2 separate regions of the Homo sapiens genome follow, and region 1 is linked to region 2. Evidence: fine-mapped expression QTL. A gene starts in region 2. The other region holds a variant in brackets. All regions are shown on one strand. Distances are between the middles of the regions. Region 1 has its middle 25 kb from the start of MAPK1IP1L. Region 2 holds the start of MAPK1IP1L (mitogen-activated protein kinase 1 interacting protein 1 like).

The links. PIP is the estimated chance that this variant, and not a neighbour inherited with it, causes the effect.
Region 1: its variant is the best candidate, but not a certain one, in a credible set for the expression of MAPK1IP1L in blood mononuclear cells (TOPMed, PIP 0.59).

Annotation. Positions count from the first base shown.
Region 1 is chr14:55,070,204-55,082,706 of GRCh38, forward strand. No RefSeq gene overlaps it. Among named protein-coding and RNA genes, the nearest start is that of MAPK1IP1L, 25 kb to the left of the region's middle. RefSeq lists enhancers at 2,011-2,130, 4,389-4,518, 7,062-8,261, 7,180-7,679, 7,702-8,203 and 1 more. The variant T/C (reference allele first, on the strand shown) is at 4,784.
Region 2 is chr14:55,045,365-55,057,867 of GRCh38, forward strand. MAPK1IP1L (mitogen-activated protein kinase 1 interacting protein 1 like) reads left to right here and starts at 6,283. Exons shown (of 4, transcript NM_144578.4): 1 at 6,283-6,439. SOCS4 (suppressor of cytokine signaling 4) reads left to right here. Exons shown (of 3, transcript NM_199421.2): 3 at 1-4,125. RefSeq lists enhancers at 5,645-6,334, 5,874-6,073 and silencers at 6,104-6,343, 6,694-6,853.

The sequences.
Region 1 (12,503 bases), 25 kb after region 2:
TTTTTTTCCTGTTGTGAGATGACATTGCTCTGACAAACATGCTATCGTGGGTTACCTGACCCAGGCAAGTCCTTTTTTATCACCGTATTAATACTCTTAGCACCAATCCTTTTGCAACTGATCTCCAAAGCAAAATAGAATTCTAAATCTTAGCTCACTTATTTTAAATAAGGCATGCAATAGAATTCGAGTGCCAGGAGAGGATTTGGGTCATCTCATAGAGCTTATTCCTGTGGCTTTTACTTATTTTTGGGACAGTCTCACTCTGTCGCCCAGGCTGGAGTGCAGTGATGCAATCTCTGCTCACTGCAACCTCCGCCTCCCGAGTTCAAGCGATTCTCCTGCCTCAGCCTCCCAAGTGGTTGGAATTACAGGTGCACACCACCAGTCCTAGCTAGTTTTTGTATTTTTACTAGAAATGGGGTTTTGCCATGTTGACCAGGCTGGTCTCAAACTCCTGACCTCAGGTGATTCGCCTGCCTCAGCCTCCCAAAGTGCTGGGATTACAGGCTTGAGCCACCATGCCTGGCCCTCGTGGCACTTAAACTTTTTTCTCTCATTTGGGAAAATTGATTTTCCCAGTGCTGAGGAGAGGACCAAGTAGAGCTTATAACGCTTAGTCTCTCCCTGCTTTCCCTAGAGCAGTTCCACTCTGCACTTCGTGTATTTTCCTTACTGATAAGTTGCTTCAGGAAGGGGACAGATTTGCTGCTTTTAAATTTTAAAAAACTACCATTATAAATGACCATGTCTGCTACTTGAGGTTTATTTAGATCATAGTCAGAGGTTCCCAAGTGTAATAGAATTGGGTCATATGGGATTCTAAGCCATACTTAGTTTTACGTAAGAAAAGAGGAAATAGAACATTTTAAGTTTTGCTCTGATTATGTTTTATGTCAGAGCTTGTCGTTTTATTTAATGGTCATATAGTCTAGCTTTCCTTAAAGATACGTAGATTTAAAAGCCACTTTAGAGATAAGGAAACCAAGTTTAAAAGAGATACGCAGTGACTCATGCCTGTGTAATCCCAACACTTTGAAAGGCCAGGGCAGGAGGATCATTTGAAGCCAGGAGTTTGAGACCAGCCTGGACAACATAGCAAGACCCCATCTCCACAAGCCAAAATTGAAGAATTAGCCAGGTGTGGTGGCATGTGCCTCTAGTCCCAGCTACTCAGGAGGCCAAGGTGGCAGGATCACTTGAGCCCCGGAGTTAGAGGCTACACTGCACTCCAGCCTGGACGACAGAGCAAGATCCTGTTTAGAGGTTAAATTCCCAGAGTCATACCACATAAATAATGAACCAGTGCTTCTGTTATCAAGGCTTAGAGTTTATCCACTAGGTTCTATTTTTTTTGTTCAGGCATCTAGTACTGCAGTTCTTCCAAAACTATCTGGACAATCAAATCTATCTAAATTGAATGTTATGTAGCAGACCTCTCACACTTCATTTAGTGAGTTTCATCGGATATTCAGTTAAAAAAAAAAAAAAAAGCTAATGGTTATGTTTGAAATGCATGGTTTTGTGAATAATCACAGTTCTTCAAGTGCTAACCTAGAACTTGAGTTGTGTTTTCATAAAGGCAAATGTTCAAAGGTATAGCAGTTAAGAGTGGGTTTAAAATGTGAATGAGAGAATTAAGGTAGTGGATGATCAAACCACTAGTTCCAGGTCCAGCCTTTGCAGTTACCAGTCATTGGAGACATGGATATCCAGCTACCCTGCAGTGGCACACACTAGGCCAAGGCTGTCAGAGCAGCTGAGACAGAAGAGGTCTCTGTTAGCAGTGGATGGGCAGCCAAGATGTACAGGAACTGCACAGAGTGTGGAAGAGTCAGAGTGAGGTTCTGCCAAGCACGGCATGACAGTTCTTTTTTTAAACGTGCCAATGCAGGACATGCTAAGTTAAAATATCTTAACTGTTGCTTAGTTACTGCAACACACAAAAACCCCAAGTACTAAGCTTAATGAATCACCTGCGTCCTTTCTTGAATGCTCAAATCTACAAAAAGACTAAACTGCATGACTAACGATTAGGACTCTTACTTGGGCTTTTTATAGAAGTGGAATGAAGAGGACTTGTGCGAACTAGGAAAAGCAGCTTCCCAGCATAAGATTTCTCGTCTGAAAGGGGTAATAAGTCTCCACCTTCGATGCCTCTGTGATCAAATTCTAAAGGGCAGCCCTTCATGGTTCAGCGAGCAACACAATTGCTGGGGATTCACAGGGCAGAGTTGGTATTTTTATTTTTTACTTTTCTTTTTAAATCAGTGTTGGGTCACGAATTTGTTTTTTAGGGTTTTTATTTTAAGCTTTGAGCTCAGCTCTGGTGTGTGATTTACGGCAACTGATTAGCTTCCTGTGCTCACTTCCCTTACCTATAAACATAATAATGCTCAAAGTACCATGAGGGAAAAAACATTCTTCATTCCCTCTAGCTAGAGATCCACTAGGTATGTTAGCATACCCCAAACAATGCACATCTAATATAGTAGCTCTATATGAATATTCCTTTTTTAAAAATCAGATTATCACCCAGGCGTGGTGGCTCATGCCTATAATCCCAGCTACTTGGGAGGCTGAGGTGGGAGGATCACATGAGCCCAAGAAGCAGACGTAGCAGTGAGCCATGATGGCACCACGCCTGAGTGACAGAGTAAGACCCTGTCTCAAAAAAATAAAAATTAGGTGATCAACATTAAGGATTAAATGTTACACAATGTGATTAGCTCTTACCTCACATGCCGGGGGGAGCAGGGAGTACACAATGTGATCCTAATATTTATTAACCACCAACCTTGTGCTCTAAGCAAGTGGTTATATGTCCCAGTTGGATATATGGCCTGGAATCATTCTGGTTCCTGTTTGCCAGGTATAATTTTTTTTTTTTTTTTTTTTTTGAGACAGAGTTTTGCTTTTTCCCTCCAGGCTGAAATGCAATGGCATGATCTCGGCTCACTGCAACCTCCGCCTCCTGGGTTCAAGCGATTCTCCTGCCTCAGCCTCCCAAGTAGCTGGGATTACAAGTGCCCACCACCACACCCAGCTGGTTTTTGTATTTTTAGTAGAGACAGGGTTTCACCATGTTGGCCAGGCTGGTCTCGAACTCCTGACCTCAGGTGATCCACCCACCTTGGCCTCCCAAAGTGCTGGGACTACAGGCGTGAGCCACCACGCCCAGACTCCAGGTATAATTATTAAAGCACCTCCCTTGCATCCACAAAAGTGTCCTGGTGTTTGTGATAAGTCACATGGTTGTCCTAAATATAACAAAAAAAGAGTACCAGTGAAGATTTTATTTCCTCAGAGAAAAAACTTGTCCTAAAAAACATGTTTTACTGTAGAAGTTACCCCTTCATTCACATACAGTCGGCCGCTTGTATCTGTGGGTTCTGCATCTGGGGATTCAACCAACCTCAGGTGGAAAATATTTCGAAGGAAAACAACAATAAATAATACAAAATGTAAAATACAATATAGCAACTATGTGCTAGCATTTACATTGTATTAGGTATTCTAAGTAATCTAGATATGATTTAAAGTATAAGGGAGGATGTGCGTAGTTTACAGGCAAATACGACACCATTTAATATCAGCAACCCAAGCATCTGTGGATTTTGGTATCCCAGGAGGGTCCTGGAACCAATCCCCTGTGGATACTGAGAGATGACTATATTATTTAGGGTGCTACTCAGACTGCATCTTATAAAGGTGAAGAACCATATCCAAGTCACTGAATTGTAGCTACATTATCTTCAGTAAGTCCCAACGGCAAGAAGCAAGCACGTCCCAGTCTTGGAACAGGGAGTCATGTCTTCTAAGATAGAGGAGCTAGATAGAGAAAGAGGGTTGGAACAGGGCTTTCTACTTTTCTGGGCACCTCTCCAAAGGTTTCTGCCACATAGCCACAATTATGTCTTTTTCCCTCCCAAGTCAGAAAGCAATTTCCCTTAAAGCCCTAAGTTTTTCCCCCAACTTAATCCCCTTACAAACTGAGTAGTACCAAAAATTATGTCCATTTTATTGTATTTTAGAGATGGGGTCTTGCTATGTTTCCCAGGCTTGTCTTGAACTCCTGGGTTCAAGCAATCCTCCTGCCTCGGCCTCCCAAAGTTCTGGGATTACAGGCAGGAGCCACCGCGCCTGGCTTATGTCCAATTTTGGAGGGTCTCTGGCTGCTGCATATAAATATTACCAAATATGTAATAGAATTACATTTCATTTCCTCCAACCCTGGGGTGACATACACGTTTTGTTTCTAATTCACAGTAAAGAGGGACTAGGGGACAGTGAAATTATTATTTCATACGATACTTGAATGGCAGGGAAATAGCAAAAACTTGTTAAATCATTTCAGAAATATCTAGTGGCCGGGTAAGAGTTGTCAACTTTTTGGTGCTTGAGGTGCATTTTTGAATACTAGAACTTGTGGCTCTCCTGTAAGGATTAAATGCTTCAGGTGTTACCACACTAGTATTCATCAGGGTGTTTGAGGAGAGCATCTGCTGCCATGGCCGAGTTCTCTCACATAGTTACACAGCAAAGTTCTTACGTGTTGCAGGAAACAATCTATCTGTGGCCCTGGCTTCATGTTACAGTCACCTCTTCACTCCTGCTGTTTGCATCTGCTCTTCCCCATCTGCAGCACCGGTCATCTTAACATTCTGGCAGTCACTGCCACAGAAGTACATGTCCCCAATTTGTGGCAAAATTTTGCACATCCACAATTTAAAGACACGTGTTCTCAGCACACTATTATGCTGCAGCACTGTGGTTGTAAAGT[T/C]AGAATAGAAAGCAGCTCACTGACAGTATCAGTTCACGTTGAAAATGAAACTTCAAAATACAAGTTTGAATATTCTTTTGCTGCTAGCACCTTTTATAACACAAAGTACTTAGGAATCACATCTGATATACAGTAGTCATCAGAAAAATTATCGCTTTCAAACAGCTAATACTTTATAATGAAAAGCATGTTAGAATTGCCGGGGGAGGAGTGGGAGAAGGACGCAGTGGGGAGAGGATAGATTCTGGATATATATACACACACACACATATATACACACACACACATATATATATACACACACACAAACACACACTTTTTTTTTTTTTTTTTTTTTTTTGAGATAGAGTCTTGCCCTGTCGCCCAGGCTGGAGTGCTGTGGCACAATCACGGCTTACTGCAGGCTTGACCTCCCCTCAAGCAATCCTCCCACCTCAGCCTCTCTGGTACCTGGGACTACAGGCATGCACCACTAGGCCCAGCTGATTTTTTTTGTAGAGATGGGTTTTCAGCATGTGGCCCAGGCTGGTCTCAAACTCCTGGGCTCAAGCAATCCACCCACCTCGGCCTCCCAAAGTGCTGGGATATTGCAGGCATGAGCCACCGCGCTTAGCCTGAGATTCTGGTAATATTCTATTGAGTTGAGTGGGATGGTGGCTATACATGAGTATTCATTTGACTTATTTAACTCCAAATATATGTCATTCTCTTGCATATATAATTTACATGTTTTTAAAAGCATATGGGACCTGAGAACCTAATATTGAAAGAAAACTCCAGTTTCACTCAGACTGTCTTTGAGAGAGGCAGACAAGCCTAACTTCAGTGGTGACTGATGTCTGAGGCATGTAACAGTAGCACGAGGCTGTGCCTAGCATCCATGGTTTCCTTTTATGCTGATAACTGAAAATCTCAATTACTTTAGGAAACAGGGCTGTCATTTAGAACACAAGAGCATAAAAGGGTCTTCCCAGTAGTCCACTCAGTCTAGTGTCCTGTCTGACAATGGCATCCAGAAATGTTTTTGTGAAAGAGCATAACTGGGTCATAAACCCAGCATGCCAGACCCAGCTCTGCACCAATGGGGAGGCAATTGTCAAGCATTCAATTGTGTAAAGCATTATGTTGAGCCAGTACAACAAGAATCGCAGAATAAAGATAGCCCCACAAATACGGAAGACAATAGGGATGGTATTTTTCACTGTGCTATTAGGGAGAAAAATGAGAAAAACATAATTAGAGTGAGGACAGAGGCAGCGTAGTATAGAGGTAGAGAGCAGGCTGGGCGTGGTGTCTCACGCCTGTAATCCCAGCATTTTGGGAGGCTGAGGTGGGAGGATCACTTGAGGTCAGGAGTTTGAGACCAGCCTGGCCAACGTGGTGAAACCTCATCTCTACTAAAAATACAAAAATTAGCTGGGCGTGGTGGTGCGTGCCTGTAGCGCCAGCTACTTGGGAGGCTGAGACAGAAGAATTGCTTGAACCTGGGAGGCGGAGGTTGCAGTGAGCCGAGATAGTGCTACTGCACTCCAGCCTGGGCGACACAGCGAGACTCCATCTCAAAAAAAAAAAAAAAAAAAAAAACAAAAGAAAACAAACAAACAAACAAAAACAGAGGTAAAGAGCACAGGTTCTGGAACCTGGCCAGCTGTGTTTAAATCGTGACTCCACTGCTTACTACATAGATCACACTGGCTGAATTACTTAACCTTGTAGTGCCTTTGCTTATTCAGCTATAAAATGAGGGCCGGGCGTGGTGGCTCACGCCTGTAATCCCAGCACTTTGGGAGGCCGAGGCGGGCGGATCACCTGAGGTTAGGAGTTTGAGACCAGTCTGGCCAACGGGGTTTCAACCCCATCTCTGCTAAAAAATATAAAAATTAGCTAGGCGTGGTGGTGGGCACCTGTAATCCCAGCTACTCGGGAGGCTGAGGCGGGAGAATCACTTAAACCCAGGAGGTGGAGGTTGCAGTGAGCCACGATCACGCCATTGCACTCCAGCCTGGGCAACAAAAATGAAACTCCACACAAAAAAATAAAAAATAAAATAAAATGAGGATTACACTCATGCCTAACTCCACAGGGTTACGAGAATTAAATGAAGTCATCCATGTGAAGCAGTTGGCACCTGACATCAGATGTGAGCTTATCATGGGAGCTGAAAGGCATTTTTCTAGGTATTGGGCCTACAAGAGTGTTACAGTTTAGCAGAAGAAACAGAAAAATAGGCAGGTGTGATGTTACTGATGCAGGAGGCACGGATTGCTCTGAGTACACCCGAGGAGCACCTAATAGTGAAACAGCTACCATTTGTTGAACACTAGTGATGTCTCAGACAGTCACCCACATGCTTTGTTTTCTGTTTTCTCCCTTAGCAATGCCCTATAAGCCCCGCCCCTTACCCAAGGCCTTTACTCACACTCACTGTGTCCTCACAACAACATAAGCAAGGGGTAAAAATTCACAGCCTGTGGAGTGCAGAGCCATGCTCTTTCCCCTTTATCACGCAGGGCACCATTAATATTTTAAGGCACTTCAGAAAAAGACCTGTCTCGGAGAAAGAGAGTCCAAAAGAACATCTGTCTCCTCACCTCACGCTACTTTGCACCTGGCCATATTTCCAAATCAATTCCACACCCTGTTTGAAAGCAGCTCACCTTGGGGATGGATTAGAAAAATCGCAAGCCCCAGGCCTGGGTATGTGAGTGAGTTTCGGCAACAGATGAAGGGCAGGCAGGCGCCCCGTCTGGGGAGGAAGTCCAGTGTCACAATTGTACCTCTGAGTAGCTGTGTTCCCAACATTCCAGAGAACAGCTCCACCCTGGAACAGCTTTCATGAGTTATCCGCACTGACGTCAGCCACATACCTGTGAACACGACTTGCTTCTTGGCTGCCCACAGCTGCACTATTCCTTCTTGCTGGGTTTTGGGAGTACACATGAGCTATTCATTACAGAGTTTCAGGCCCACTAGCAACTCTGAATACCTCATATTCTAAAAGAGCACGGCTTTTCCCAGCTCATTTGGGATTACATGAGAGATTAGCCTGTGTCCACGAAGGCCAACAACTACTCTGACTGGGGAATCGGCAAGAGAAGGCTTCCTGGAATGAGTCTCGAGGGATTTGAGCTTTGGACAAAGGAGTTGATAAGATTTTGTCCTAGGACAAAGAAAGATAGAACAGGCCTAAGATAAATGAGCAAAGATATTTTAGCACCTAGGTTTTAGTCGTTCAACTTACTGGTATGTATGTATTTATTACTTATTTTTATTTATTTTTTTGAGACGGAGTCTCACTTTGTCACCCAGGCTGGAGTGCAGTGGCACAAGCTTAGCTCATTGCAACCTTTGCCTCCCGGATTCAAGCAATTCTCCTGCCTCAGCCTCCCGAGTAGCTGGGATTACACAGGCACCTGCCACCACACCTGGCTAATTTTTGTATTTGTAGTAGAGATGGGGTTTCACTCCATGTTGGCCAGGCTGGTCTCAAACCCCTGACCTCAGGTGATCTGCCCGCCTCAGCCTCCCAAAGTGTTGGGATTACAGGTGGGAGCCACTGCGCCTGGCCTATTTATTTTTTATTTATTTATTTTATTTTATTAGATGGAGTCTCGCTCTGTCGCCAGGCTGGAGTGCAGTGGTGCAATCTCAGCTCACTGCAACCTCCACCTCCCGGGTTCAAGCAGTTCTCCTGCCTCAGCCTCCTGAGTAGCTGGGACTACAGGTGCGTACCACCATGCCCAGCTAATTTTTGTATTTTTAGTAGAGATGGGGTTTCACCATGTTGGCCAGGATGGTCTCGATCTCTTGACCTCATAATCCGCCTGCCTCAGCCTCCCAAAGTGCTGGGATTACAGGTGTGAGCCACTGTGCCCGGCCTATTTATTTTATTATTATTATTTCTGGGGGACAAGGTCTTGCCCTGTCACCCAGGCTGGAGTGCAGTGGCTCGATCATAGCTCACTGCAGCCTCAAACTCCCTGGCTCAAGCGATACTCCCTCCCACCTCAGCCTCCTGAGTAGCTAGGGCTACTGGTGTGAGCAACTAACTGGTATTTTTTTACTACTTACTCTGTGCCACATCCTGGAAATTCAATACTGAACAAGTTAAATGGTTTCTGCCCTTGTGTAGTTTACAAGCTAGTGGAAGAGACAATCACTAAATAATATAAATTACATTTGTAATGAGCGATGGGGAAATAATGTGTAACAGTATTCTGGAGTCAAGGAAAGCTCACCAGAGGAAATGACATTTGAGCTGAAATTTGACAGCTGAGCAGGATTCAGGCTGGAGATATGCTTAGGGAAGGGTGCAAGAAGAGACTGCAAAAAGGGCAAGGGGGAGAGACAATCCTGTATGCAGGATGGTATGGGTCAGGAGCAGCAATACCTGCCTATATGTTGATAGTGTTGGGGCCAGAGGATGTGAAACGGAGCATGATAGGGTAGAAGACCTATGATTGGCTCTGTTTCTGTCCCTATATTCTGTCTACTAGATTAAGTTAGCTGTTCTCCCATCTACAATACAGAGAGCTCCAATAAACTCAGTTTTAAGTTTTAGGATCCCTTGGCTCTCCAGGCTAACCATATGAGGGAGACGCTTCGCACGGAGATTTGGGTTTCCTGGTGTTCTATTAGGCATATTTTTCCAGCCAGGTGGAAGAGGAAGTCTTTCTGGGTTTTTTTTTGTTTTTCTTTTTGTTTTTTTGAGACAGAGTTTCGCTCTTGTCACCCAGGCTGGAGTGCAATGGTGCGATCTCAGCTCACTACAACCTCCGCCTCCCGAGTTCAAGTGATTCTTCTGCCTCAGCCTCCCGAGTAGCTGGGATTACAGGCATGTGCCTCCACATCCGGCTACTTTTTGTATTTTTAGTAGAGACAGGGTTTCACCATGTTGGCTAGGCTGGTCTCGAACTCCTGACCTCAGGTGATCCACCCACCTCAGCCTCCCAAAGTGCTGGGATTACAAGCTTGAGCCACCACGCCTTGCCTGAAGTCTCCTTTTTATGAACCTAATATCTTTCAACGTGCCTAATATTTGTCAAAGAATTAGTCTCAGCACTGTGCTGTTTAGGGGATGGGACATTATTCCTGTATTTACTCAAAAGGAGAAATTAGAAAAACCCTTGATTGCATAATTTAGTCAGCTCATACCCCAAGTCACTTCAATTTCCCTATCTTGCTTCTTGTTATTGTTTTTAAAAATAGGCTGGGCGCAGTGGCTCACGCCTGTAATCCTAGCACTTTGGGAGGCTGAGGTGGGCAGATTGCCTGAGCTCAGGAGTTCGAGATCAGCCTGGGCAACATGGTGAAACCCTGTCTCTACTAAAATACAAAAAATTAGTCAGGCATGGTGGCGTGTGCCTGTAGTCCCAGCAACTCGGGAGGCTGAGGCAGGAGAATTGCTTGAACCTGGGAGGCGGAGGTTGCAGTGAGCCAAGATCACACCACTGCATTCCAGCCTGGGTGACAGAGTGAGACCAAAAAAAGCAAAAAACAAAAAACAAAAAAACAAACCAGAAAAGTGGGATGTTTATACTTTATAAAAGGTACCCGGAGGAATTTCAGTTCAGCTGTTCAGTCTATGGCTGCTGTAGTAAACAGCTATACTTCCAAGGCCTTGCACAGAGCAATCCCCAAGGCAACATTTCCCAAGGTGTATTTTATACAACACCAATTTCTAGAGCTGCACCTTGAGTAAAGGGTTCCATGGATCAGTAAGTTTGAGGACACTGAATGTGAAATCCATTCATGAAGAAGTACCACCACATTAGTACATTAAGGGGCTAGCAAGTCCTATAGTAAAAAAAAACAAAAACAACAAAAAACCAGTATTTCCCAAGTACTTAATCACAGGAAATTTTTGTTTGAATAACTGCTTATTTCTATGGCAGGACTACCAGAGATTATTGCTCATTTTTATTTTAATTTTTTTTGAGACAAAGTCTCACTCTGTCGCCTAGGCTGGAGTGCAGTGGAGCAATCTCGGCTCACTGTAACCTCCGCCTCCCGGGCTTGGGTGATCCTCCCACCTCAGCTTCCCAAGTAGCTGGGACCGCAAGTGTGTGCCACCATGTCCAGCTAATTTTTGTATTTTTAGTAGAGATGGGTTTTTGTCATGTTGCCCAGGCTAGTCTCAAACTCTTGGGCTCAAGCAATCTTCCTGCCTCGGCCTCCCAAAGTGCTGGGATTACAGGTCCCACCCTGCTTATTTTTTATTTAACATTTATTCAGCATTGTGTACAAAGTAAGTGTGGTGTCATGCAGAAATGAATTACAGAGGGGAAGGGTTTAATATGCATTTGATATATAGTTTCAAAATATTCAATTATTTTATAGAAGAAATGGGATGAACTCATAAGATATCAAGTATAAATCAGTAATTGGCATCTAGAAAATGTGTGGGTTAAACATAGATGAAAAAAGCTGGGAGAACCAAGAGTACACGTGGTAATAAACATACATAAGGGGGACCTGGGCACTAAATAGTGATACATTAAATACCAATATTCACAAGTCTTTAATATGGTCACCCATTGGTGATATCTAGCCTGGCTTCATGTGTTCTCTGCCCAAGTAATGAAAATCCATGGCTGTTCAACAGACTAATGACAAGCTACAATTTTGGCCAATTGCTTCTCTCCAATAGAGCAAATATGTACCATTGACCCAGAACCTCCTCCTTCCCTTGCTTGAACCTCACCACTGGCCTGGAAGTTCCTCATAAGGTTAAACATAAAGTTACTGTATGACCAGCAATTCTACTCCTAGGGATATACACCCAAGAAAAATGAAAATATATGTCCACACAAACACCTGTGCACAAATGTTGATAGCAGCATTGTCCATAACAGCCAAAAAGTAGAAACAACCTAAATGTCCATCAACTGATGGATAAACAAAATGTGGTATTCCCATCAATGGAATATTATTCAGCCATAAATGGACATGAAATTCTGATACATGCTATAACTTGATGCACCTTGAAAACATTATGCTAAGTGAAAGAAACCAGTCACAAAAGGCTGCATATACTGTGATTCTATGTATATAAAATATTCAGAATAGTCAAATCTATAGAGGTGGGTTGGTGGCTGCCAGGGCTTGGGGAGAGAGATACAAAGAGATACCACTACACACTTACTAGAATGCATACAATTAAAAACAGGACTGGGCGTGGTAGTTCACGCCTGTAGTCTCAGCACTTTGGGAGGCCAAGGTGGGAGGATCACTTGAGCCCAAAATTTTGAGACCAGCCTGGGCAACATAGTGAGATCTTGTCTCCATGAAAAATAGAAAAACTTAGTCTGGTGTGGTGGCATGTGCCTGTAGTTCCAGCTACTTGGGAACCTGAGGTGGGAGGATCACTTGAGACTGGGAAGTTGAGGCTGCAGTAAGCCATGATCGTACCATTGCACTCCAGCCTGGGTGACAGAGTGAGACTCCTGTCTCAAAAAAAATAAAATAAAATAATAAAAATGAATAAATAAATAAATAAAATTAATTTAATTAAAAACGTTGACTGTACCAACTGTTGGTGAGGATGTAGACAATGGAATTCTCCTACACTACTGGTGGGAATGTAAAATGGCATGACCAATTGGAAAACAATTTGTCAGTTTCTTAAAAAGTTAAACATATACCTACCTAATGACCCACTCATTCTACTCCCAGGAGAAATATAAGTAGAGGTGGTCTTCGACTTACAATATGGTTACAT
Region 2 (12,503 bases):
GTAGTTTTTCATTATTTTAAGTTGAATTTGAATAAAGATTCCAGAAATAAACATGGAGCTCAGTATTCAGGAAGCTTAATACTGTTTTTGATCTACAAGATCCAAATAATTATCCCTATCTTCAGAATTAACTTAGTCTGTAATGTGGCTTCAAAAAAAGAAAGCCTTTTGACAGCTACATGACTTACACCATACAGAACAGTACTGGACAAAAGGGGTGATATTTTAAATTTACTATCCCAGAAACAGGGCAACGTTTTTAGAAACATCTTTAGCCCAAAGTAACTAGTAAAAATAAATGGAGTGGTATCCTATCTTCTTTTTTTAAGGAATCAATGAATAATAAATGTAGATAGACAATTTTCTTCTGGTGAGCTGTCTAACCCTTTGTACACATTGACATTTTTAATATCGTAACTGATTTCTTGATGCTAGTTTAGCTATATTAGGAAACTGCTTCTACCTAGATTGAAAGAAATTTGACTCATAAACTTCCAAGTTAGAACAAATATTTCTTCATTATTGTTGCTTTTATGTGAGTAGCATTTCCCTATCTTGCAGTTCTGTTAACATGAAAATGGCATTTTTCCATAATAGCTTTAAAATAATTTTTTAGTAATTATTACAAAATTAAGGAAAATCTCTATTACCGTTATCTTTTAGCATTTTTTTTTTCCTCAGTGATCTCAAGATTGTCTTAGTCTCAATGAGATGTAGCTACAAAAATGGCACCTCTTAGCAGTGATGAGGCTCAGGATATCGGATATCATAACACCAATGTCAGGATAAATATCTCTTCTAAAGACGATATTTACCTTTTACAAGGTTAGAAAAGTCTCATACTACCTCATCTTTATTGTGGCGCTTTTGTAGATCACTGAGAAGCTTATCTTATTAACCAATATACCACTTCCTAAATATCCATCTTTGGTGAAAGAAAATAGTGTGGTAAGAGTACCCATGATTATAGTTTTTTATCAGAATTTGATAAGATTTTCTGTTTCTGTGAAACAATTATTTTAAATATTTTTCTTTTAAAAATAACTTTTTATCAGTACAGAAAAACCTAAGGGATGACTAGCTTACAAATATTCTGTTAAGGGGTAGTTTTATAAAGAAAAATGATATATAGTTATGTTGTCTTTTATAGTGTTAAAATTAGTATTTATATGAAAGTCAAGATCTAAGTACCTTTTCATATAATTCAAACTGATTGCTTGTGATATGTTTTCTCTGGCTTTTTTATTTTTTCAACTTCAAGGTATTAACAGCTGTTAACACTTAAAAAGTACTGCCACATATGTAGCCTTGAAGTAGTTGATCTAATAAATGAGAGCAGGGAGGAGATTCATTGACTCTGAAATGATTTTTATTTTTCCTTTGGTATTTGCTACAGTGAAAAGAAGTTTGGAAAGTAGATACATAAAGACTTGAGAAGGGAATTGTTTAAGGGAAAAGAAAAGAGTAATAATTTTTTTTAAAACATTAAGGAATTGGAATTCAGAAAGGTTACCCCCTTCCTCTGTGTCTTTGTAAGGATACATTTGGAAGAACATACAGTATTCAGAAACTAACCTATATAAAATGTAAACAATATATTGATTGCACTATATAAATGAGTAAATTTTGAGAGGAACAATGTGGGAATGTATAAATTTGTCTAAAATTTTATAACTGTTGAACAAAGGGAAGATTTGAACAGTGTAAATTCCAGAGTTGAGAAAGCATTTAGCATGGTGGAAATGTGGAGAGCTTATTGGTGAGAGAGGATGGAGCTAAGAGAAATAAGATCAAATATTAAAATTAGGAATTTAGGCATTACCTCAGGGAAAAGCCTTGACAGTGAAAAGAAACTACTTAATCGCTAATAGCTAGTCTGGACCAGACACTTAACTGCGCTTTGGGAATCATCCTGGGCTAATCAGGAAATAAACTTGACTTTTCTATTTTTCTCTGAAGCTTTACAGGACATACTCCCACTCCCATTTTTTTCTAAGCCTACAGCATCTTGATTCATAGTATAATTCCTGAAGTATGCTGAATGGACTTTTTAAGGTTCCTTTAGCATTTTTGTATAGAGTTATATGTGATCTTTCTATAACCATGCCATTCACTTAAATAATTCATGAAGGGAATGGTTTAATTTAAAGGAAGACCTAATAGGAAGAAGATTAAAGGAAGCTTTTAGTCAGCCTGTGGCTAGATTTATTGATTTGGTGATCAAACCTGTGCTATTTCCTGAATTTCAGCTAATGGCCAACTGTGGTCAAAGAATGGCTTTCAGTTAAAGTTTTGACTTCTTATTATAAATAATATAAAGAATGTCTCAGTAATTAGAAATCCCTTAATAAGTAGAACAAATGTGGCAAGTAGGACTCCTATCGGTATACAAATTCCATTTCTTTTTATAAGAAAAACACATAAACCATTATCATTTATTCATGAGCCAAAGCCATTAAGAAGATAAATCCAGTTATCAGCTTCCTGTCTCTGAAGTTTGGATCATTTTATAGATCCACGCAATAGAGAGCTTCCTTCCTATGAAACAAAAACCTTGAGATCTCTTTTTTTTTGAGACAGAGTCTCGCTGTTGTCAGCCCAGGCTGGAGTGCAATGGCGCAATCTCGGTTCACTGCAACCTCTGCCTTCCAGGTTCCAGCAATTCTCCTACCTCAGCTCCCAAGTAGCTGAGATGACAGGCGTGTGCCACCACGCCCAGCTAATTTTTGTATTTTTAGTAGCGATGGTGTTTCACTACATTGGCCAGGCTGGTCTCGAACTCCTGACCTCAGGTGACCACCCGCCTCAGCCTCCCAAAGTGCTGGGATTACAGGCATGAGCCACTGTGCCCGGCCAAGATCTAACTCACGCTTACTTTTCATTAAAATATTTCTTGTCGCTTTTAGCTATTGTCAGAATCCAATAAACAGCTTACGCATTCATTTTGGTAAAGCAAATTTCACAGGAAAATAGACAAAATTATAAGAGATTCCTGGAGACAACACAAGGAAAACAATGTTTAAAAGCAAAATAGCCTGTGTAATGTTAGGTAATGTAATGCCCAAGTGAATAAAAGATTTTTCGTCAAGCAAACTACTGTTTCTACTTTGGGGGAAAAAAGTCAGTTTTACATTTGTAATTTAAGGAAAGAACAGAAAGCACAAAGGTTTTTCTTTTCTTTATTAATGGCCTACTAGAAATGAGCAGTGCAAGAGTCTACCTGTACTATTCTAATACAGTAAGATATTGGACACAAAATGGAGGTAACTTTTTAAAATAGATTGGCTTGGAAGTTGAAATGTAGATTAATGGATATAACCCAATAGAAAGGGATTTTCAAATAAAACCAAAGTCTATTTTTTTATTTACTTTCTAATTTTGAACAGATGACTCAGTCCTAAATCTTTGCCTTTATTTCCTATAAAATGTAGGTGATACTTGTAACTCGACTTCCTGGAGTTAATTCTTCAGCAAGAGGTGACCCTGGGAGCGTACTTTAAAATAATTGCTGTACAGCCATTGAGTACTAACATGATGATAGGTTTTCAAAATATCTTTGTAGTGGATGCTGCATAATTACATTCACTTCTCTTAGACTGTAAAAGACTTTCTTGACTTGTTTTAACAGTAGAGATAGCAGTACAATTTGAATTTATGGTTTAGGCTCTGCAATTAGAGGAACAATTGCAGTTTCCTCCTACCCTTCATATGGTCTGTGTAAAACTGATGTTTGCTTAACTTATTTTAAAAGTTGATTACGTTTTCAGAAAATAAAGATAATCACTTTTGCCATGGTTATAATCAAATCTAAGCTTTCAGACTTGAGAGCCATGGTGTAAAACTCAAGGAGGTTTATTTAAATTATGCTGACTTTGCTAGAATTGGATAAATTCTGTATAAGCCAAGTATGAGTTCACATGTACTCGAATATACAGTTTTCACAAAGCTATTACTCTCATCAGTCAGGCTTGTATGATCTATTCCTTACCACAAAAGAAGTAGACAATTGCCACTTTTATTTCTAATCCTTAAGTTGAATGTTTCTTCTTGGATGTAAGTTCAAATAAATTGATCTGGATAAATTTTCATTTCTACTTAATTAAAACTTCCTATGTAAAATCCAAAGGCTTTGTGTTTTATTTTAAAAACATAGTCTTTACTTCACACATTCAACTTAGAATCTGAAAAAGATAGAGAAACCCATATTCTTACATATTTTCTAATTTATAATACACTCCTTTTAGTTTTTTTGTGTTTGGGACTTCCAGAAGCAGGTGCCAAAATGTGATTAGAGGTGCAAGAGATTTATTTGGAGTGAAACACCTAGAAAGATAGAGAAGGGAGCAGAAGGTGGGGAATTCTTCATACCACACAGAAAGTCTGACACCTAGAAGGAAGGATTGGGTAGGGGAGCTTCGGACTTCAGTGCATCTTGAGACTGCTAGATGAGGACTTGGTTCCCAAGCAAAGGTTGCCTGTAGAGAAGCCCACAGGGACAGGAATGGCCTAGATCTAGACCCCTCCAACGTGCTCAGCTACTGGCTGATTGCAGGCAAGGAAAAGTTGGAGGCTATCCATTACTGGTACACAGCGCCAGGACTAGGGTATGGTGAGGCACTTAGGGACAAATATTTGACTATACGACTAAGGAAGACAATGTTTTGGTACAATATTGTAATATCTGAATTGATGCAAAAAAGCCTATGATGAGCAAGATACCAAATTTCAAATCAAACCTGACCAGATTACTGATTTCTTGTTGCTTCAGGTTTCAGCATGGCTCAAGGCACTGCTGATTCACTGTCACCAGTGAGAACAGGCTAGGTCCACACCAGTCGTGTAATTTTCCATAGGCCTGTGTGCCCTTACCCAAAAATAAGACTCTCGGCTTAGGTATTTGAAGTTCCTCTGTTGCCCCTTTTTCAGTGTGAGAATTGTGTGTGCTGTGGAAAACATCCAGGGATGTCTTCCTTTAAACAAGTTCATGGTTAAATGGCCACCCACTCACTCACTAATGCCTTACACAAAGCAAGATGCAAGTGTACCACATACTTTTAGGATATTTTTATATCTTAAAAAATGTATATTGGCCGGGCACAGTGGCTCACGCCTGTAATCCCAGCACTTTGCCGAGGAGGGCGGATCACAAGATCAAGAGATCGAGACCATCCTGGCCAACGTGGTGAAACCTCGTCTCTAAATACAAAAATTAGCTGGGCAAGGTAGCGCGCGCCTGTAGTTCCGGCTACTTGGGAGGCTGAGGCAGGAGAATCGCTTGAACCCGGGAGGCGGAGGTTGCAGTGAGCCGAGATCGCACCGCGCCACTGCACTCCAGCCTGGCGACAGAGCAAGACTCCGTCTCAAAAAAAAAAAAAAAGTATATTGCATATATGTATATATTTTGCACACCATATAATTATCACGACATCTTTATTGCTAGTTAGTAGGTTCCTTGACTGGGGTCATGTCATCTGTGCCTGACACAGGAGGTAATGTTTATTCAGAAATGAAGATGGCGGCTGGGCACGGTGGCTCACACCTGTAATACCAGCTCTTTGGGAGGCCGAAGCGGGCAGATCGCTTGAGGCTAGCAGGGTGAGACCCCATCTCTATCAAAAACACAAAAATAAGCCGGATGTGGTGGCACATGCCTGCAGTCTCAGCTACTCGGAGGCTAAGATGGGAGGATTGCTTGAGACCAGCAGGCAGAGGTTGCAGTGAGCCGAGATCGCGCCACTGCACTCCAGCGTGTGTGACAGAGGCCCTGTCTCAAAAACAACAAAAAAGAACATGGGAGAAGAGGCATTGATGAGGAAAAATCTACAAAGAAAGCAAATATCAATTTGTCAAGCTATTTGCAAACGTCTTCCCTTTCCTGTATTAATATTTTCCCTCTCCCCACTTTTGGCCCGAGGATCTGAGTCCTCGGGTCAGGCCGAAATCAGACCGCGTCCATACCCAGCCTCCTTCGAGGCCTAGCTGTAAAAACCGCTGAGCAAAAGGAATCCAGAATCAGCCCTCAAGCAACTCAAGACAAGTTAGCAATTTCCGCCGGGAAGCCGTGAACATCGGCAGCCACTGGCGTTTCCTCCGAGTCCTCGGAACTCCGGAAACTCTGGGAGCTTTTAGCCCGCCCACCAGGGGAAAGCGGCCCGGAGCCGGCGCCAGGTGGAGCCCATCCCCCTAGGCCTGGCGGGCCGCAGTACCGCCAGGGGCCTGCGGGAGGCGCACGCGGCGCGGCCTGAGGGGAGGGGGAGAACGGGCGGAGGCGGTGCGCTCGGCGCTTCCTGTTCCGGCGCCAGGAGGAGCCGCGCGCTGCTGGTGCTGTTGCCGCCGCTGCTCTAGCTGCCGTCAGTCAGGCTGCGCCCGCGTCTTCAGGGCCCAGTCCCTCGGACCCATCGCCGCTTCTAGACCCTACTGCGGTCTCGGATATTGCCGGGTGAGGCTGCTTCGGTACTAGTGGGAGTCGTGAAGGGGAATCGGGGAGCTGGGGTTGCGGAGCCCGCGGGCGCGGCCAAGCGGGAAGCGGGCGCGGTGACCGAGGTGCATCGAGTCACGTCCAGTGCTCGGGCCGTGGTCGCCTGCCTGGCACCAGGACTAAGCGTTTCTATCGGTCGCCTTCCTCCACGCTGCGGGCTGCCTGGGGATCGCCCCCCAGGGAGAAGGTGTCGGAGGCCGCTGACGTCGCGCCCGACGGGTTTCTGGGCGCCTGACGTCAGGTCTGGCTGCGGGGCGGGGCGGGCGCGGGCCGGCCCCTCCCCCACCCCTTCCCGGCGGGCGCGACCCGCTAGGAGGCCGGTTCGCTCCGGTTGATCCCGGACTCCCTTTGTTCGTGCGTCCCTAAACGGCTGCCGGCCTCGCGCCCCTTGGCCCCGATTTCCCCTCTACCCCCACCCTATTACACTCATTCATTAATTTTTAATAAAAAGGGAAAGGCCTGAAAAGATTCTTACAAGAGTCTCGGGCGCTTGTTAATCCGCAGTGTGACAACGTTCTGGTTATGACTTACTAGAGGAATTGCTCACGGATACATTAGATGAATACCCAGGGCAAACCACGAGAAGGGCAGAATTCAGTGATCTCCTTTTTTAGGACTGAGGAGCACATACCTGCGATAGCGTATGCATAGCTGGACCGTTTTCCTCTTTACCTTGAAAAGCAAGAGTACAGCTTTTAATAGGTAAAGATTCCAGTGTTAAAGCATGAAGCCAGGCTCACTCGACCGCAAGAATTTTTTTTAGTTTTACTACTAGAGAAATACACACCTGGGGGTTGTAAAGGTCTGTTTCGAAAAGGAACCCTCATTACAGGCAAAGGTAGCCTTCAGAAACATTTCATAAGTTCTTTGTTCACTGGTGTTCTTTGGGGGAAGAATAGAAATTTTTCATGCTGGCATCTCTGAGCCCACAATGCAAAGCGAGTTTGCTTCAGAAACTTGGAGTGAATTGCAAATATTGGAATGTTCTTTTCCTCACTCCAGGCGGAATGGGTAAAATCCATCCCCAGTCTCTTAACTGAAACTTTTGAAGCTAGTGTGTTTTGAATTCAAAAATACTTGGATTTTATCTTCATCTTTTTAGAAAGTCATGTTAGACGAGAGATAACACCCCCAGCAGAGTGGGGCACCCCATAATCCAACATTAATATTTGCAGCAATAGATGTGAACATTCATTCTAAGTGGGGGCGAATAGAAACTATAAATAGCTTCAGGTCACATTTTGCCACCATGTAAGTTTTGTGCCAAACTAGGGCAGATAAAGATTTATGGACCTAAAAGTAGGCATCATAAAAGCTAATATTTGTTGAGGTTTTGCTATATTCCAGGCAGCGACTAAGAGATTTGTTTATTAAAAGTTTTACAGCAAATCTATGATGTGGGTACGATTCCGATCTTCCTTTGCCTCAAGTTTGGAGAGTTGGACTTGTCAACTCTGGCCGAACCAACCAGTGAAGAGCTGCAGTTATAGCTAGATAATCATACTTTAACGTTTACTTTTTTACCTATAAGCTAGATGTCCACATACAAAGAAAAGAGAATTTGGTATTTGTTTTCCACCCAAGCACTATTTTTTTAGGCACTTGATTGGACAGAGTCCCATTTAGTTCCTCGCAACATTACTGGCCTGGTTTTTATTTGTTTTGTTTTTTAAACTGCGTGCTTTTTACAAATAGTATGGCCTGTTCTTTATAGTTCGGGTTCATTCAGATGAGCCGACTTTTAGTGAAATAATTCAAACCCTCGTCTAAGGTCACTCTGCTAAGACTTTAATACAACCCTTCCCTTTCTCGCTATATTCTAACCCATCTGAACTGCTTATACCTCCCCAGAGATTCTCCCAGTTTTTACACTAACTGCTCTTCTTTCCCTAGGGCCCATTTCACCGCCCTCTACTCCCGGCTCTTTCCTTATGGTCCTTATGGACTGCAAAAGACAGCACATCTCAGGAATCTCCATGTAATACTATAATTTCTCTAAAGGCCAACACATTGTTTGGCATATATGTTCCAATAAGTATATAACTAAATGCCAAGAAATATTGCAGGTTGCATATCCTTTATCCCAAATGCTTGGGACCAGAAGTGTTTCAGATTTTGGATTTTTTTTACATTACACCAGTTGAGCATCCAAAATCCAGAATGCTCTAATGAGCATTTCCTTTGAGCGGCATGGTGGCACTCAAAAAGATTCAGATTTTTGAGCATTTCAAAACCCCCGTTTTTGAGTTGCCCAAATGTAAAAAATGGAACATAAGCAGATAAATGAGCCAATACTAAAAACTAGCATGTATTCTAATTTATAATTTATATTTTCTTTTTTTTTTTTTTTTTTGGAGACGGAGTCGCTTACTGTAAGCTCCGCCTCCCAGGTTCCAGCGATTCTCCTGCCTCAGCCTATCGAAGCGAAGTAGCTGGGATTACAGGTGCCTTCCACCACGCCCAGCTAATTTTCTGTATTTTTAGTTGAGATAGGGTTTTACCATTGGCCAGGCTGGTCTTGAATTCCTGGCCTCAAGTAATCCACCCACCTCGGCCTCCCAAAGTGCTGCGATTACAGGCTTGAGCCGCCGCACCCGGCCATTAATTTATATTTTCAGTACGATACATATCATCCCCCCATACTAAACAAATCAACCCAAAAATTTTGATTTCGCTTAATTTCGCCTAACAAATATCTAACATGTATATAGCACTTTATAGATTAAGTGTGTTACTATTTTCTGTGCAGTGGGCAGGAATTATAACTTCTACAGATGGAAAATGGTCTCTTATTGAGAAGTTTTTTGTCAAAAGATAACCGTCAAAAGGATTCATGTCCGGGTTTCATCACTGTGTAGTCCCATACTGTTTATCACTCCATCACAATTTGAAGGCTGTCTGAAATATCCATGAACTCCACTGGTAATTCATGGAGTTCAACTCTCTTAACCACCCTCCTCCCTGACCCATGATTTTTACCCTAACAGCCATGAGAGTTTCCAAAAATGTTATGTTTTACTTTTCTAGTGTATGTCAAAAGACATTTTGTACTGTTTTAAAATTACTATTCTTGCTATTCAAAGAATAAAAAGTATTGTTTTTCAGATGATGGGTGGATCATGCTATAAAATGGTAACAAAGTTTTGGAAATAATAGCTTTAGATTATTCCAAAAAGAAAAAAAAGAAAGCCTTTCTTGAGTATAAATTGTTTTTATGAGTTCAAGGTTACATTGGCCTCATCTTAATAATTAGCGATGATTCAGATATTTTGGAATAGCTTTATATTTTTATTTATTTTTCTTTTTGAGACAGAGTGCCACTAATATTGCCCAGGCTGGTCTCTTAACTACTGGCCTCAAGCGGTCTTCCCACCTCAGCCTCCTGAGAAGCTGGGATTACAGGTGCACACTACCAAGCGCGGCTTAGAATAGCTTTTTAGAAAACCTAAACTTTTTATGTTCTGCAACTCTCCTCATATTGAAACGTTCATGTCCAACTGTTTTTCACCTTTTCTAATGAAAGTATTCTCCAAAGAACAAATTGGAATGCTTCCAATTATAGTTGTTCCCCCTTATCCTAGGGGGACACATTGCAAGACTCCCCAATGAATCCCTGAAACTGAAGTCTGTATACACTGCCGAAGCCTAAGTATACCATGTTTTTTAGATCTAATAACCAAGATGGGCTGATAGCGTATACAGCATGGATACACTGGACAAAGGGATGATTCACGTCCTAGGCAGGAGGGGGCAAACTTTCATTTTGCTACTCAGAACATGCTCTTGCCCCATTTAAAACTTAGGAATTGGCCAGGTGCAGTGGTTCATGCCTAATCCCAGCACTTTGGGAGACTGAGGTGGGCGGATTACTTGAGGCCAGGAGTTTGAGACCAGCCTGGCCAACATGGTGAAACCCCGTCTCTACCAAAAATTAAAAATTAGCCGGGCGTGGTGGCACGTGCCTATAATCCCAGCTACTTGAGAGGCTCAGGTAGGAGAATCACTTAAACCTGGGAGGCGGAGGTTGCAGTGAGTCAAGATCACACTACTGCACTTTAGCCTGGGTGGCAGAGCGAGACTCCATCTCAAAAACAAAACAAAAAACTTACGAATTATTTATTTCTGGAATTTTTCATTTAATATGTTCGGACCTTAGGTAATTAAAACCACAGATAAGGGGGGATCACCCTAACATGAACGCTGTTTATTCTAGGAATGGAGAGCTGGTCACTTTACTAAGACAGTGCCGTAGAACAGAACTTGTTACTAATTCCTATGCTTAGGGCTTTGTTTTTTAATCACAAGATTCTAGCACCTCCCCTATCTTCCAGACTTGGATTTTGAACTTTAAAATTTTGAAGTAGTGTTGTGAATCAGTTGAATATTATTAACTTGTAGAATAATTTATGTAATTCCATGACTAGGTAACTGTATAATTCTGAAAACCTGAACAGTCAAGGCCATTTGGTTCACTTTGATTCTCAACTCCAGAATTAATATGAACTTTGATACAGAATCATTTTCTATTTCAGAAAGGCTAACCCTGTTTAAAAAGCATGTTAGCCTTACAACTTACCGTATATTTTCTACACTGTTAGTCCTAAAAATTTTATTGTGTGATGTGATTGACGTTAAACCTTAACATGGGAATGGGTTGTATGTGGGTTTTTTTGTTTTTTTGTTTTTGAGACGGAGTTTGCACTGTCACCCAGGCTGGAGTGCAGTGGCTTGATCTCAGCTCACTGCAAGCTCCGCCTCCTGGGTTCGCGCCATTCTCTTGCCTCAGCCTCCTGAGTAGCTGGGACTACAGGTGCCCACCATTATGCCTGGCTAATTTTTTGTATTTTTAGTAGAGACGGGGTTTCACCTTGTTAGCCAGGATGGTCTCAATCTCCTGACTTCGTGATCCGCCCTCCTCGGCCTCCCAAAGTGCTGGGATTACAGGCGTGAGCCACCGCGCCCGGCCATGTTTTTTGATATTCTGAATAAAAAGGATATAGCAGTTGGGATAGGCTTGGGTTCTTGTCCTTTATGTTCTTGTCCTTTCCTCATGATAATCAAATCATAATTAGAAATAAGATGCTAAGAATACAAAGGTGGCTCTATGTTAATACTGTATTGATAGGTCAAAGGAGAAAAAGCATGAGATCAATTCATTAGATACTGAAAAGTCTTTTGAGGGAATTTAATGTCTTCTTGCTTTCTTTATTAACAGAATAGGAATAAATAATAGCATAGGCATAAATTAAAAATAATGTAATTTTTTAAAATCTCAAACTAAAAATGGGAATCATACTTAAACATTAGCATTCCCAGGAGAGTTGGAGCAAGACCTCTGTGCCCACTATCACTCAACATTTCATTATTTAAGTCCTAGCAAGTGCAAAACAGAAAAGATGCATAAATATTAGAGAAGGAAAGTTATTTTTTGCAAATGGCGTATTTTTTATCTGGAAATACCAGAGAATCAAGTGAGAAACTTTGAAGAATAAAATAATTCAGTAATGATGCTTCCTACCCTAGGTTAATTAATATAAAGAAGAGTTAAATTCCTATGGCATATTTCTGGTAACAAAAACATCACTAAACTTTTAAATAAAACCCAAAACACTTCTAGTATTAAACATTTAAATGAGCTGGGCGCAGTGGCTCACGCCTGTAATCCCAGCACTTTGGGAGGCCAAGGTGGGCGGATCACAAGGTCAAGAGATGGAGACCATCCTGGACAACATGGTGAAACCCCGTCTCTACTAAAAATACAAAAATTAGTGGGTGTAGTGGCCCGCACCTGTAGTCCCAGCTACTCAGGAGACTGAGGCACGAGAATCGCTTAAACTGAGGAGGCGGAGGTTACAGTGAACCAAGATCGCGCCACTGCACTCCAGTCTGGCGACAGAGCGAGACTCCATCTCAAAAAAAAAAAAAAATTTAAATGATTTCTACTAAAAATTTTAAAAATTAGCATGCCTATGGTCCCAGCTACTCAAAGGCTAAGGTGGGAGGATCCACTTGAGCCTGGGAGGTG